2 separate regions of the Homo sapiens genome follow, and region 2 is linked to region 1. Evidence: fine-mapped expression QTL. A gene starts in region 1. The other region holds a variant in brackets. All regions are shown on one strand. Distances are from middle to middle. Region 1 holds the start of SLC24A2 (solute carrier family 24 member 2). Region 2 has its middle 110 kb from the start of MIR4473.

The links. PIP is the estimated chance that this variant, and not a neighbour inherited with it, causes the effect. A credible set is the group of variants that fine-mapping cannot tell apart.
Region 2: its variant is the best candidate, but not a certain one, in a credible set for the expression of SLC24A2 in regulatory T cells (Schmiedel 2018, PIP 0.83).

What each region holds. Positions count from the first base shown.
Region 1 is chr9:19,786,088-19,791,469 of GRCh38, forward strand. It overlaps SLC24A2 (solute carrier family 24 member 2), which reads right to left and starts at 2,950. Exons shown (of 11, transcript NM_020344.4): 1 at 2,798-2,950; 2 at 1-932. The coding sequence starts at 779. LOC124902128 (a long non-coding RNA gene) reads left to right here and starts at 3,072. Exons shown (of 2, transcript XR_007061432.1): 1 at 3,072-3,191; 2 at 4,838-4,973. RefSeq lists an enhancer at 1,866-2,513.
Region 2 is chr9:20,299,696-20,305,077 of GRCh38, forward strand. It overlaps a transcript of SLC24A2 not described here. Among named protein-coding and RNA genes, the nearest start is that of MIR4473, 110 kb to the right of the region's middle. RefSeq lists an enhancer at 2,372-3,049. The variant C/T (reference allele first, on the strand shown) is at 2,260.

The DNA.
Region 1 (5,382 bases):
ACATTATCCAGGAAAAATATGATCAGCATGATCAAGTCAACAATGTAGAAAGACACATCTCGAAAGAGCGGCCACCATGTCAGGTTTAAGATTTCTCTAGAAAACAGAGCACACATGCCAATAACAAAGAGGATGTTGAATACTGCTGAACCTACAATTGTGCCTATGCCAACGTTGCTGTGAGCGATAAATACCCCTATGAGAGATGTGAAAAGTTCTGGGGCTGACCCTCCTGCAGCCATGAAGGTGGCTCCAGCCACATCATCAGAGATGCCCAGTTTTTCAGTGATGACAGTCAAAGAAGGAACAAAGAACTCATCACAGACAATGGCTAAGGCTATGAACATGTAGATCATTCCAATGACATGCAGAATGATCGCACCTTTTCTTCTCTCCTCAAGGGAAAAGATGTCTTTCGGGTAGTCTCCTTGGGCGTGATCTGTACTATTCTCAGACTCGCCTTCCTTAGAAAGAGGTGGCTGTGGAGTATAATCCAGAATCTTGTCATTTAAATCTAAGAGAGTTCTCTGATGGTAACCCTGTGCTACCCTAGGGCCACTTACAACACTGGCCTCTCCTGTGCTCTGTGTATCTGTCTCAGAAAAGGCACTGATTGAAAATGAGACAGTGCTAATGGCTACCAGACCCATGAAAAGGCCTAAGACTCGAATTAACTTCAGTTTTTTCTTGACACTATAATGTCTTCTGCAGCCAGACAGTGACTCATCCAAACACCATTTCTCTAGGGAAGTGATGGTGGTGCTTTGTTGCAGATCCATCCTGGGTCTTCTGGTGGATATGGTGATCTTCCAACTTTAGACTCAACCAGATGGTTCTTTCATACTTTTCCTTACTTTATAGTTAACGATGCTTGTGGGGTACTTTCACAATCAGGGATTGTTATGCTTCACAGGAAACTTTCATCATTTATGCTTAAATAAAAATAAAAACGAGAATAAGTAAATCATAAAATCACGTCTTTTTAATAAAGATCTTTGCAGATATGATAAAGTCCTGTCCTGCAGCTGTGCGATCTTGGGTAAGTTACTTAACTTCTCTGTGCCTCAGTTTCCTCATTTAAAATGGGGACAATTACGGTACCTACCACCCAGGATTGTTTTCAAGATGAGTAAAAACATATGTAGCACTTAGTATGGGATGTGGCACTTATGAAGATGTATGTATAAACCCAAATAAATATTTTGGTAAATCCAATGTTAGGTGCAGAGAAGGCAGATGTAAGAATAAAAATTTTACAGGTGAAAATCTATCAGATTATCTCACCTTAAATCATGTAATAACCTTCCAGTGCTATAAAGGTACCTAGACTTCTTTCAGAACTGTCTAGGTACTTGGCAACTAACAATTATTCATTGTTTACTTTTGGTCCAATTACATAATTCTCAGTTGTAGGCAACTTTTTCTGATTTAACCTATCATTTGGAAAGTGAGTGATTCTTTAATTTAGTGATCTTTTTTCTGCACACATAATGATATCAGATCTTATTTTTCATAAAAAGTCTCTCCTTTATCAGATGCGGGAAAGTAGTCCTTTACAAATTTAAGTTTACAAAAAAAAATTCTGGTGACATGCACAAGCTGCCTTCCCTAAACATCTAGACATTGTTTTCAGCTAAATATTTTTTTTAAAAAAACAACCTTTAGTCATATTTAAAATAGGCAGCTTAGTAAGTCAAAGAACTCCCAATGCAGTGAAATAACAAGTAGGCTATTTCGAGAGACCACATGTGTATTTCATAAACAATACGCAAGTTGTAGCAATACCTCTGTCCACAAAATCTGCCCAAAATAGCCCCACCACTGACTTTAATAGGTTAGATATCCAAAGCAGAGTTTTCTTTCTCTATCCCACGGAGGAGATGGGTAAAATAGCCAGACTTGACAGCTGATATTCTGAAGAGTTCTCTTTTTAGTTTTTCTTTAAAAAGACTATTCTTTTCCATATCAACGATTTCATTTTGGAGGCAGTCGCTGAGATAATCTCAGGTGTAAAATAAGCTAATTAAACACACGCCACTTAAATACTGAGATTAGCTGGAGCTCAGGTTTTCAGAGCAAAGCAAGAGCACAAATCAACCCCGCTGAGTTGCTGCTACTCCTGAGATAACCCGACCCCATCACGGAGATTCCCAGGTGGCTGCGAACGTCAACGCTTAGCAGGAACGATTAAGCGATTCACAGCACTCAGGGGATTGTGTAAATGCCCGGCCCGGGCGACCAGCAGGGACAGATTCAACTCCCCGGGCGCAAAGTCATCTCCAGCCCGATCCTCGCTCCCCCTGAAAACCCACCGCTCGTCTCCCCGGGAGCTGCCTCCGTAGGAGAATGTTCGCCCCCAGCCGCGCCCCAACTTTGCCTTGCGTGGTCCCAAACTTTCCCTGGTGGATTAATAGGAAAATAAATCTAAAGGACAGACGCCCCACCTGTGAGCTTGGAGCTGGGTTGCATTTGGTGAGGCGCTTGGCCCGCATCCCCCTGAGTCGTTTGTAGGTGGCTGGGGAATGGAAGCGCCCCTCTGCGCGTCTCCCCCGACGGCAGGCCCTGCCCCACGCCCCCCATCCCAAGCCAAAAGCAAGGGTAGGAGAGGCGGGGGCTCCAAATCCACGCCCCGGAGCACAGAGAGTTGGCTAACTCCTAGCGGGGCCTGGGGCGCCCACATCCACGGCAGAGCCACCTGTGAGCCTGCAGAGCAGCAACGGGATGCGCGCAACCGGGATGCGGGGACGACCGCCACAGCGGCTACAGCGGCAGGCGGGGCGCAGCCGCCCGCACTTACCAGGATAAGATGGGAGGACGCGCACACGGCGGGGCCCCCGAGCGCGGCCCGCCGCTCCAGTCCGCCGGCCCTCCGCCTACCCGCTCTGAGGCCCGGGCTCTGGCTCGCACTGGCTGCCGCTCTCGCCAGCCGGGCTGGGTTCGGGAGGAGACTGAGCCGCTGTGAGCCCGGCGCTCCGAGTCTGGCGCTGCCCGGCCCCCGCCGGCCCCTCCCTCTGGGCTGTGCGCTGTGCGCTGGGAGCGGGGCCGCAGCGCGCTCAGCTCCCGAGTCCTTTGCTCCACGCCTCCTGGGCGCAGAGGCGACGCTGGCAGCCGTCTCTTAGGAGATTTCTCCGCAGTGTGGACGGGGGTCAGGATTTGCAGGCGAGCAAGGGCAGAGAGGAGAAATCGTACAGGTCGGTGACGCGCCTAATTCACAAAGCCTGAAAGTGCTGTCAACTTTGGGGTCATCTTATGCTGGGCACCGCCTCTCCAATTATCTGCAAAAAGTGATAGCAGTCGCGCTTTTCTTTAGGAGGCGATGTGATGTGTAATGGTGGAAAAGACGTTCAATGAAAAGGCACGGAGGCCTGCAGGACAGGCTGTTGGGGTCCAGGGTTTCTTGAGTGTTGGATTTGGATGCTTGGGACACTGCAGGGGCTTCAGTCTTGCAGGGTGACCTTTCATTTCATGGGTGATGAAAGTGAGACCCAAAACCCCGTGTCATTTTGAATCACTGACAGGCTTCGGCTTTTGGCCTCGGGATGTCCAGCCCAGTGCTCCTTCCTGTCCTATCTGGAAAGCAAGATCCCCTTGACCACAAGAAATAGAATCAGGCTTGTTGGGGATGAGAGACTAGAATCTGGGCCAAAGAATGGAAGACGGTGGTAAGACAAATTGGTAGTGAGGGAACCCCTTTTACCCAACCCTGTGACCACCAGCAAAGCTGCCAAGAGGTACCCAACTCGTGAAGCTCTGAAAGCTTTTCGCACATTTTCCCCTCTCCTTACCCTCCATCCTTCTGTTCTCTCCCCCATCCAAGAGGGTTTCTTCATGCCCTCCTTACAATGGGGGTAATGGGTATATCCTGAGAGCTCATGACCTCTGACTTAGAGTACAGCTCTGTAGTCAGACCTCTGGGCCTACTCATCAATAAGTAAAGGGAAGCCTAGGGAACTTAGAAATATTTTTCTTCCCCCCACCCCCCAATCAAAGCCAGGCATTCAAGACTCAACTTTTCTTTTTCTTTCTCCTTTCGAGACTGAATCTTGCTATGTTGCCCAAGCTTGTCTTGAATTCCTGGGCTCTAGCCATCCTCCAGCCTCAGACTCCCAAGTGCTTGCAGACTATAGGTGCCTGACTGAATTTTTTTATCTTTAACTTTTAATTTAGAAAATTTCAAACATATACAAATGTAAGAAAGTAGTATAATGAATCTCCATGGGGCCATAACCAGCTTGAACAATTATGAACTCATGGACAGTCATATTTCATCTATACCCCTTTTTCCTATGTCATCATTTTGAAGCAAATCCCAGAGCATCATATCATTTTATCTGTAAATATTTTCAGAAAGCAAGAAAACTATCAACTACCACTAGGGTTGTGTCAAGAAGGGGACAATTCAAATAGGCTGTCACTGACCAAAGACGGGCTAATTTGAGCATCAAAAAAAAAAAAAAAAAAGATAATCGCAATTGTTTAAAACACATCAAACATGATTATATCTATTAATTGATAATATTTTAAAAACAACTGAACAGATTGATTGCTTGATGGTTCAGAGGGAACCAGCTCATAATTTTCAAAACTGTTTTAGGAAAAGGAAAACAATTGTGCATTTATTTTGCCTTTTCTATACAAATTGGACCTCTGGGTAACCAATTAGGCTTTATTTTTACCCTGCCTTTGTCTACTTTCCTAGTTTAACAATCCTATTCTTCCCTGAGGCAATAGGTGCCTCTGGCTACATGGGGTGCGGAGGGGAATATCACAATGTCTAGAAGAGTTTTTCTTATGTTATCTTCTAGAATTTTTATGGTTTCAGGTTTTTCCCCTACAGCTCAGAGATGACCCTGAGTCTTGATTCGGTGAGAAGAGGAATGAGATCCAGATGAAGACCTCATGAGTCCATAGATTGTATTGGCTGGGATTTGCACTTGGTTGCACATAATAAAAATTCATTCTTGGTGATTAAACCAAACAAGAATTTATTTTTCTCATGGTAAAAAGAAGTCTGAAAGCAGACTGCCCAGGGTTTATAAAATAGCTTCAAGATGCTATCTGGGAACCCAGATCTTTTGATCTGTCTTTCTTAATGTATGGCTTTATCCTCATGGCTACAAAATGGTTTATTCTTTTGCATTACATCTGTGTTCCAGGCAGGAAGAAGGGAAAGAGTGAAGGGTGAAAGGCAGAAGGCCTCCTTGCTAGGCTTTGTCTTTTTATTTAGGAAGGGATTCTGTCAATGCTTCACTTACATTTCACTGATCACGACTTGGTCACAAGACATAGCTGCAAGGGAGTGTAAACAGTATTTCAACTGAGCACATAGTCATCTTTTAGAAAATCAGGGCTCTCTTAGTAAGGGAGAAGGGGGAGATAAAT
Region 2 (5,382 bases), 510 kb after region 1:
TTAACTTGCCTTCCCTGGTCACCTACTAGGCACTATGCTAAATGCAATTCTAATTTTGGAGACAAAGAAACTCGTTCAGGGAGAAACTTGCTCGATGTCACAGATATCCATAAGTGGCAGAGCCAGGATCCAAACTTGGACCTCTTATTCCAAGTGCATTGCTCTTTTCACTACATCATGCTGCCTTCTAGAAAAATCAGCTAACTCTGTGCTTCTAGACTCTACACAGTATTCAATAACTCTGATGACTTTGAATTCAGGAAATGTCTATCAATTGGACCAGGATCTGCTTTTTAAGCTTATCTTTATTTCTAGTACTTCCTGAGAAAGAGTAAAGTATTCTGAAATATAGAAGATGGATAGGTAGAAAAATGCATATGTAAATACACAGATGATGGTTGGATAGATGGGCAGACAGACTTTTTTAAAATTTTTATGGATACATAGTAGGTATATATGTATTTATGGGGTACATGAAGTGTTTTGATACAGGCATGCCATGTATGGTAATTACATCTTGGAAAATGGGGTATCTATCCCCTTGAGCATTTATCCTTTGTGTTAAAAACAATCCAATTATATCTTTTAGTTATTGGACAGACTTTGAGTTTATTGGACAGACTTTAATTGAGCTCCTCCATCAAACTTTGTGACTTTGAAAAATAGTCACTTAGGTTTTGTTTGTTTGTTTTCTATAAAATGGCCTTGTCAAAGCCCTTCTCATGGAACTATTGTGAGAAACTACCTCTAACAGTGCCTGGTATACCCATAGACTCTTACTATTCTCCCCTTTGTGTTAAAATCATGCTTCAGAATTATGTCCAAATTCTGCAGCAAGGACCCAATTCAAATATTGTTTGAAACATCCAGAATGTCTGTTTTTGACATCAAGTTGGCCCATAGATTTGACAGCCTGGTACCCATAGAGTCCCCACCCAAGAACATTTCCTTCAAAACAAGCTCCTGTTACAGAAACGGCCCTGGTTTTAAATATACTCCCTTCTCTCATAAAAATGCCCCAGCCAGCTAAAGTCATTCTATTTAAAATATTTAATTAATACCTTCACAGAGGTCTGGAACTTATTAAAGACTCTTGGGGACCATGTCTTAGGGGCAATGCTTTGTTCTAAGCAGCTCTATGTGTTACAGATAATATAAAGTGCTGGAATGTGCTTTCTATTAAAAGCAGGGACATTTGCCTGCCTGCTGTTGCAAACCCTTTTGTCATCATCGTGACACATTAAGGCATAATCCAAGTACAACATACACACACAAACAGTGTCAATCCATCCATTGAGTAAAAAGAGTCCCAGGAAAACCACAAGAAAGGTCTGGTGATTAGATGAGGGGATTAAAAACTGGAGGAGCTCTTCCTCTACCTCTTCTCCCACCTGAAGAGGCCACAAAGGCACATTGCTCCCCAAGCAAACAAGAGCAAAAACACAAAGGCACACACTTTGCTCTACCTCCAGTATCTTCTTGGCTTCTCAGCCTTTGGCAGGTGAAAGAAACATTGGTTAAAAGTCCTACCTTCCAAGCAAGTAAACATGCTCTTAGTCCCCCTTTGTCTCACAGGCTGAAGACTGGCAATTGCTTCACATCCATTGTTGTCTGGGGAGTACATTTTTTTTTCTTATTATAAAAATGGTATAGGTTCAATCTTGAAAACCTTGGAAAAAATGTAAAAGAAAATAATTATTTTAACCATAACCCTACCACCTAGACATGACTTTGCTGCATTTCTCCCCTTCTATGTGTATACTTTCACAAAGCTGTCATTACCACACATTTACCCTTTTATTTCCAGCTTCTTTTCCCTTAAAGACATTGGGGGAAATGCTCAGGGTATCATAGTAAGAGATGAAGACTTTAAAAGAAATTAAAGCCTTTTTTTTTTTTCAAGCAGTTTTAGGTTTACAGCAAAATTGAGAGGAAGGTACAGAGATTTCCAATATACTCCATGCACCCCCACATGCAGAGCCTCCTCCATTATCAACATCCCCCACCAGCGTGGTACATTTGTTACAACTGTCAGCCAATGTTGACACATCATAATCACTCAAAGTCCATGGTTTACATTAGGGTTCACTCTTGGTGTTGTACATTCTGTGGGTCAGAACAAATGTATTAATGACAGGTATCCACTATTATAGTATCATTCAGAGTACTTTCACTGCCCTAAAACCCCTCTGTACTCTGCCTATTCACCTCTCCCTCCTCGCTAAACCCTGGCAACCATTGGTCTTTTTACTGTCTTCA[C/T]AGTTTTGCCTTTTCCGGAATGTCATAGAGTTGGAATCATACACTATATAGACTTTACAACTCACTTCTTTCACTTAGTAATATGCATTTAAGTTTCCTCATGGCTTGACAGCTCATTTACTTTTAACGCTGAATAATATTCCATTGCATGGACATACCACCGTTTATTTATCTATTCACCTATGGAAAGATATCCTGTTTCCAAGTTTTTGGCAATTCTGAATAAAGCTGCTATTAACATCTGTGTGTAGGTTTTTGTACAATTTTCAGCTCCTTTGGGTAGCTACCAAGGAGCTCAGTTGCTGGGCTGTATGGTAAGCATATTTTTAGTTTTGTAAGAAACTGGCAAACCGTCTTCCCAAATGGCCATACTGTTATATTTTGCACCCACACCAGCAATCAATGAGAGCTCCTGTTGCTTCCCATCCTTGTCAGCATTTAGTGTTGTCAGTGTTCTGGGCTTTGGTCATTCTAATAGGTATGTAATGGTATCTCATTGTTTTGATTTGCATTTCCCTAATGACAGTGATGTGGAACTTCTTTTCATATGCTTATTTGCCATCTGTATATCTTATGTGGTGAGGTGTCTGTTGAGATCTTTGGCTTATTTTCTAATCAGGTTATTTTCATATTTTGGTGTTGAGTTTTTTTTATACTTTTCTTTTGGATAGCAGTCCTTTATCAGACTGCCTTTTGCAAATATATTCTCCCAGTCTATGGCTTGTCTTCTCATTCTCTTGACTATGTCTTTCACAGAGCAGAAGTTTTTAATTTTAATGAAGTCTGGCTTATCAATTATTTCTTTCATGGATTGTGCCTTTGGTGGTGTTGTCATTTATTTTTAATTGCCAAGGATGATACCACTGTGGGGCTGAACCAACATTAATATAACCAATTATTTCCCATATGATCAACATTGAGGTTGAGATTTTCACTACTGTAAACAATGCAATGACAGCATATTGATAATTGTGCACTTTTTGGATTATTTCCTTTGGATAAATTCCTAAAAGAGAAATGGAGTCTCAATCTTGTTAGAGTATCTGATATATTTTGCTAAACTTCCATCCCCAAAAGTACCACTTTACCCTCTTACCTGCATGTGACAATATCCATCTTATCACACTTTTAAAAATATTTTTTACTAAGATACATAGATATATCTGTATTTTTTTTCTTTAAAAAAAAGGAAAAATTCATCATAAGGCTGCTGCCCTTTTTCATGCATCACGGGAGTACAGTTACTATCCCTCTTCTTACCATTCCATTTACATTAAAAAAGAACCCTGAGGGGAAACAGGGGCCTCCAAAGGGTACATCCCTCCTCCCACCTGAGTGAATTGGGAGGGAAAATTGAAGGTCTTTTACAAAATCCTAACATGGTTGAGAGCAAGGATTTAAACTTTGGCCCCTGTACTTCAGCCAAGATCTTGTAAGAGTTTATTTATTTTTCTCTATTTTTCCCTTTGATAATCAACAAATTTAACGTATTCATTTTAAATCCCACAAGTCTGTTCCCTTTCCCAGGAGCAGAATGAAGTAATCTAGTTCCCACGTTCTGACAGCATAGTTTAAGGGCCACAAAAGATGATAGCCCCCAGCCCATACAGCCAGGGATACTTCCAATAACTGGAGGTTTGCCAAAACAATCAAGCAAGAGACATTTGCACCAGAGCCTTGAAGATCGTCCAACCCTTAGCTGCCCAATTATTACCTCCTTCAAGAGTAGAAGTCTTTCCTCCACCTGACTGTAGCCATATCTTGAAATTTAATTGAACTTTGCCACCAGAAGGGTTCATTTTATTTTTAATAGAGACACAGGCAATGCTTTTCTTAAGTAGGGACAACCTAGCGGCAAAACCTCACTGTGTTCCTAGTCTTTGCATCTTATCTGAAGCTAACATGCAGACAGGGCAGGGGGCTCTCAGCTCAGTGGGTGCTGTGCATCTTATGCTTTGGAGGTTTGGATGGGGCAAGACTTGGGAAGAAAGTACCTTCAGCCTTACGGTCCCTAAGTGACAGTGACCACATAAGGTGTATCCAAGTCCACTGAGAATCTCAGCTACATTTCATGACATAGCTATAAAACAGTTCCAAGTACTAATTCGTTAGTCTTGGGTTTTATGCTGAGTGACTCTGAAATATCTGATTAAAGAGGCTAGCTTCAGTTTCCACTCTGAAAACCTGGCTTGAATTTATTGCTGCCTCACACAGGATTGCCTCAAGCTGGGTCTCTCCACTTCAGTGGCAGGCAGGTTAACTATTTCACTGCTGGATGCTCTGTCCCTCACTGCCAACCCACCCCCAGCCCCCTTCCTAAACTCTCATCCCACAGCCCCGGGAGCGGATTCTGCAAAGGGCTTATAAAGCACAGAGGGAAACTGACCATCTGGCCTGAGTGATCTTTTTTTGAAGGGTAAAGAAGATATTTAGAAAGAGTCCATTGTAATAAACACATTTTCAAAATTGTTTTAAAGTACTTAAAAATACAGAGATAGAGATAATTTTCTGTTTAAAAAAAGACTTTTAACAGCCAAATAATTCTCATTGGTATTTTATATAAAACACATGCGTAAGTTTGGAAAGTTTCAATCACACAGAAAGGTACAAAGTTAAAGGTATAAAAATAATGTAAAGCCTACTTTACCCATCAGAATAAACATAAAACCCAGTATATGCTTATTCTTATAGGTAAATTACTCTTGATTTAAATATGTACATTTTGTTTGAATTATGCTGGGTCTCCAGGAACACAATCCTTATATAAAATGAGATAGCCCTGGACTATTTTCACTTCTCTATTTTATAGAGGAGGAAACCAAGCTAGAGAGAGAAGAAACAAGTAACTTGCCTAAAGTCTCAGGGATAATAAGCAGCAGAGCAAGGACATAGTCCTAGGTGGGATCCCAGAGACACGTATGAGCTCACCTGGGTCACGACAGTAACTGCCCAGCAACCCTACTGCCAGTCTCGGTGTCCACCAGCCCACAATGAGTCTTATGATCATACCATGCCTCTATCCAACTACTTAAATGACTCCCCACTTCATATACCCACACTGGAGAGTGGATTGGATATGGAAAACACCATTTAGCACAAAGTTATTTAAAGACATGCATGTTA